Regions from separate parts of the Homo sapiens genome. Here region 1 is linked to region 2. The links come from fine-mapping of genetic effects on gene expression. Tissue or cell type: whole blood. Region 2 holds a variant in brackets; the other region holds the start of a gene. All regions are shown on one strand. Distances are between the middles of the regions.

Region 1 (2,756 bases), 34 kb before region 2:
CGAGGAACCAGTTTAAAGGATATGAAATAGACTAGATGTAACAGTGATCACGGATGGACTGCATCCTAAGAGAAAAAAGTGCCATGAAAGACATAATTGGAACAGCTGACATAACCGGAAATGGAACATGATTAAAGTCTTCTATCAGTATTAAATTTCCTAAATTTGATTGTCTGGTAGTTTCATTCTTAGGACATACATACTGAAAGACTAAGGGGTTGGGCACGGTGGCTCACGCCTGTAATCCCAGCACTTTGGGAGGCAGAGGCAGGTAGATCACCTAAGGTCAGGAGTTCAAGAACAGCCTGGCCAACATGGCAAAACCTCATCTCTAGTAAAAAATAGAAAAATTAGCCAGGTATGGTGGTGTGTGCCTATGATCCCAGCTACTCGGGAGGCTAAGGCAGGGAGAATTGCTTGAACCCGGGAGGCGGAGGTTGCAGTGAGCCGAGATCGCGCCACTGCACTCCAGCCTGGGTGACAGGGCGAGACTCCGTCTCAAAAAAAAAAAAAGGAAAAAAAAAAAGAAAAAAAAAAGACTAACGGACAGTGGGCCTGATACATGCAACCTATCTCAAATGAGTCAGAAAAAAATGTAAAGATAGAAATGTGGTATAACGTTAGCAACTTGTGAATCTTGATGAAGGGTATATAGGAACTTTTTGTACTGTTTTTGCAGCTTTCTTGTAAATTATTTCAAGATTTAAAAGTTTAAAGATTTTTTAAAAGTGCTGCCATTAACATTCCATCCATATTTTTTGATGCACACGCGCAAGCTTCTCCAGCATATTCCACCGAATGGTGTTGCAGATTCATAAGGTGTGCACATCTTCAACCTGACTAGCTATACAGTTTACAAAGTGCTGACATCCTTATTAATTTTATTTTTGCACTGTCTTTTTCTCTCACTAAAATTTAAGGTTGGGCAGTGCTATTAAAAGTGCGGCCCTTGGGCCCGCAGCATTAGCCTCATCAGGGTGCTGGTTAAACACACAAATCGTCAGACCTCCACCCCAGACTTTCTGAATCAGAAACTCTGGGGGCACAGCCCAGGAATCTTCGTTTTCACAAACCTCCAAACGAATATAAAGATCGTAGATTATATAGACCGTAGGGCCGATGTATATAATCTATTAGGGCCGCGTCGGCCTTGCAGGCGGGTCTCCAAGTGAATGAGCGGCAGAGTCCCATCATGCGCATCAGCCTGCGTGAACCAGTGCGCAGCGCGCCTTTCCCGGGCACCCTCTAGGTGCTGGCAGCTGGCGCCCAGATCCCCCGGCTGGGTGGGGAGGGGCGGCCGGACGGGGCGGGCCGGAGGCTGGCGTCCCCGCCCCGAAAGCACTGGGCCCGCCGCGTCGCACCGTCCTCTTTCCTTTCCTTCTCCCTCCCCTTTTCCCTTCCTTCGTCCCTTCCTTCCTTCCTTTCGCCGGGCGCGATGGAGCCGGGGCGCCGGGGGGCCGCGGCGCTGCTAGCGCTGCTGTGCGTGGCCTGCGCGCTGCGCGCCGGGCGCGCCCAATACGAACGCTACAGCTTCCGCAGCTTCCCACGGGACGAGCTGATGCCGCTCGAGTCGGCCTACCGGCACGCGCTGGACAAGTACAGCGGCGAGCACTGGGCCGAGAGCGTGGGCTACCTGGAGATCAGCCTGCGGCTGCACCGCTTGCTGCGCGACAGCGAGGCCTTCTGCCACCGCAACTGCAGCGCCGCGCCGCAGCCCGAGCCCGCCGCCGGCCTCGCCAGCTATCCCGAGCTGCGCCTCTTCGGGGGCCTGCTGCGCCGCGCGCACTGCCTCAAGCGCTGCAAGCAGGGCCTGCCAGCCTTCCGCCAGTCCCAGCCCAGCCGCGAGGTGCTGGCGGACTTCCAGCGCCGCGAGCCCTACAAGTTCCTGCAGTTCGCTTACTTCAAGGCAAGTCCGCCTCGCCCCGTCCCAGGCCCCGGCCCCGCCCCTGACCCAGCCTCCAGGCCCTAGCCCCGCCCCTGCGCCCGGGGCCGCGTTGCCCCTCCAGTTCTAGACCTGGCTCCCTCCCATCCAGCCCTGCCAAAGGTCTCCTCCAAGTCCTGTCTCCTTCTTCATCTCAACTAGAGATGAAAATGCCTTTCTTGAAGGGTAACTCTAAGGTAGAGAATACGTACACAGAACGCAGTACAGCGCCAGGCACCCAACAAAGTGCCTGATAAATGTTCTCTGTTATTTGAGGGCAGACGCCTCTTTTCTGTATATACCATTAAAGTCGCCTTTTTTCTCAAGTGAGCGGTGACTTGCGATAATAAAGCAGAAGACCTGAGGAGCCGACAAGTACCTTTTATTTTTATTTTTTGTTGAGACAGGGTCTCACAGTCGCCCAGGCTGGAGTGCAGAGGCGCTATCATGGCTCACTGCAGCCTTGACCTCCTCAGGCTCAGGTGATCCTCCACCTCAGCCTCCTGAGTAGCTGGGATTATAGGCGCGCGCCACCACACCTAGCTAATTTTTTGGTATTTTCTGTAGAGACAGAGTTTCGCCACGTTGCCCAGGCTGATCTCGAACTCCCGGACTCAAGTGATCCTCCCACCTCGCCTCCCAGAGTTCTGGGATTACAGTCGTGAGCCATTGCACCCAGCTGACTAGTTCCTTTTAAAGAGGATGAAATTGAGGCCAGGGAAGGGCAGGGACTCCTTGCAAGGACACATCCCTGCTTAAAGGGGAACTCGTGCACCGTGAGTCATCAGGATTGGCCCTCTCCGCTGTTTCTCTCTTTCATCTAGAATTTAACACA
Region 2 (2,756 bases):
TGGAGCTCAGTGGTTGCTGTTTGGTTCTGCAGGCTGGTGGGGAGGCCGCCCATCGTGGTGGGGCATCTGTCCAGCCCCATTGCCACTCAGGGCATCCAAACAGGAGGCACCCGCTGGGAAGGGTCTAAAGATACTCCTTGTGGCCACTGCTACTGTTCACACTTGACTTGTGGAGAAGCGAAGGGCTGAGGGGAGGTTTGTGTACACCCATGTATTTAAAAGTGACTGACTGACTGAAATGAGCACATACCGACATATGCAACATACTAATACCTTCCTGATTTTCGAGACTTTCTAATTACTACAACTAACCTGTTGTGCTCACCTCTGGAATTCAGAAAGAGAGCCACTGCGAGCACTGACCACAAGGGCTGCCTTAGGAAGGAAATGTGTGCTTTCAGGAGTTCTTATTAGGGGAATTTTAAGAGCACAAAAATTTTATTGAACCCACCTTAGTGACAAACAGAAAATGATTTGTTAGATTGTCAGTTGGAAGGGGTTTATTATGACTGCTGGTGAAATAAACAGTGACCAGTTTCTGCCAACATTTATGGAAATAACGTTTCTAGGTTTTAAATGTGAGCCGTAAACTGAAGCTACTTCAGTTAAAAAAAAAAAAATCAATACTTAAACTGTAGGGAAAAGGTGGATTGGTGCCAGAGAAAACATTATTTAATAGTGTCAGAACATGGAACTGCAACACAGTTTGTAGCAAGGCACTGAGAAAAACCCACAACTAATCCTTCATCGCAGCTGTCTGAACTCTTGATCATCTGCCATCCCCCAAACAGTGACTTCTTTTTTTCTGGTGACTCCAGGCCTGAATGACCTAGTGTGGAGAGTTTAAACTATGTACAAGGGAGGAAAGAAAAAAAGGAAAGGAACCTTAAGTAAGCCTCAGCCAAAGGTTTTATGCATTGGACTTCCTGTGCCTGCCCCCAGGGGCAAGACTGATCCCCATGCCTGTGCCCATGACATCTCCCTGAAAGAGGACACCATGACAGCCCGGCTTTGCCTTGACTGACCCACTGCTACCCCAGAAATAAGAATCAAGAGCAGCTATTGTTATCCTTAGAGTGTTTTCCGTCTAGGGCCGGCTCGTGAACAGCCACATATCCTTGCACCTGACACTGTCCCCACACAAATAGCTGGCTTTCGTTGCTTGTTGAATGAATGAGTGAGTTGGCTCTATATCCCCTTGGAGCTGGCCGGTAAGATATTAGTGCCTCATTTTACAAGAAGAGAATAGGAAGGAATTAAGCAATTTGGCCAACAGATACAAGATAGATTCCAGAGTTTTATCTCCCACTTTAGGGTGGCAGCCAGTAGGCCAAACTCCAAAGACCGTTGCTGATGTCTTTTTCTGCCTCCCCTCTTTGGGTTAGTGTGGTATGTACAAGCTCACTCTTGTTGAAAATTAGAAAATAGTTGAAAACAAAAGGTTTTTGTTTTTCTTTTTAAATCACATTAAATGTTTTACATTGCTTATTCTCTATTTTCTATTCTATCCACTGGACAGGGATGTCTTCACCACATTCTAGAAGCTATGTTGTAATGAGCTCTGTTTTCTCAGGTCTGTGAAATTTCTGACATTCATCTAACAAAGTAGAAACTTCAAGCCAGGGAC[T/G]CCTGGATCTCATGCAAGAGGAGTGGTCCTTGCTCTCCATGAGCCAAGAGCTGGCTGAGGTCCTGTCAGGCAGTAGAGGCTCATGCCTCTCCCCCGGAAGATTGTCTTTCAGAGGAGATCTGGAATCCCACTAGGAAAAACATTTGGAATCTGTTTCAAACAGGGACACAAAGCATCTTCAGGCATGACTGTCAACAGCAACTATGCTCCATGCATGCCACTAAAGGGCAGGCAGGAGAAAGAAGAGTAGAAGGAAGCAGGTGGAAAGAGTGAGGAACCAGCCAGCACAAAAAGAAGTCCACGTTATGGAGAGTTGAAACAGCTGTCTGAAGAAGAGGTGGAGGACATGGAGGTCAGCCCAAGAATTCCAGAGGTTATGGTGAAAAAATCTGGACTGAGGAGAGGAGGTGTAGGGAGTAAGAGTTGAGTGTTGATGGATGTCTTAGGTCAGGATCCTTTGAAGCAAGGGAAGTGATGGGGTGCTCTCAAGAGAAGGGGTGTGAGAGAAGCAGGAAGGAGCCAGTAAGGATGTGTCTTCAGTTGGAGACTGACTTCAGCTTGATCTCATGGGAGCTCTGGAGCATGAATCATATCGGAGTTGGTCCCACCTTGAGGAAAGGAGGCCAGCCTTTTGCATTCCCATGACAGCTGGTCATTGGTTATAGGCTGCCCTAGCAGAGTATACCGTGGTCTAACTTCCTGGGTGAGGGAACTCTCAATAGGCCAAGGGCAATTCTCTGCGTTGGAAGGGTACACTTACGTGCTTATGAGCATTTTAACAGCCAACACTCAGGGCAGCTGGAAGACAGGTTCACCTACCTAGCAAAGGGGACCTGGGAGGGGCATCAACAATGTCCACAACATTGGAAGGCTTGGGAGGCATGGATCTGTGGTGGTCATGGATGTAAAAATGGACATAAGGCAGATGGGATTGGTGCTGATGGCGTCTGAGCTGGATTTGCTAGCTGCCCTTCCGTATCTCTTCCAACATGCCCCTCCAACATGCCCGGTGTCCCAGAAGCCTGACCTCTATGGTTCCATTGCCTGGGCTTCTTCACCCTCTGATTTCCAGTTGCCACTGGGACATGCCAACAAGAGATGGCAGGGTGAGACAAGGTCTGGTTCCTTA

Evidence for each region. PIP is the estimated chance that this variant, and not a neighbour inherited with it, causes the effect.
Region 1: CRTAP starts here. The variant in region 2 is fine-mapped to the expression of CRTAP in whole blood (TOPMed, PIP 0.92).

Annotation. Positions count from the first base shown.
Region 1 is chr3:33,112,643-33,115,398 of GRCh38, forward strand. CRTAP (cartilage associated protein) reads left to right here and starts at 1,372. Exons shown (of 7, transcript NM_006371.5): 1 at 1,372-1,906. The coding sequence starts at 1,436. RefSeq lists silencers at 1,202-1,501, 1,942-2,131 and an enhancer at 2,083-2,756.
Region 2 is chr3:33,146,286-33,149,041 of GRCh38, forward strand. It overlaps CRTAP (cartilage associated protein), which reads left to right. Exons shown (of 7, transcript NM_006371.5): 7 at 1-1,488. Among named protein-coding and RNA genes, the nearest start is that of CRTAP, 34 kb to the left of the region's middle. The variant T/G (reference allele first, on the strand shown) is at 1,628.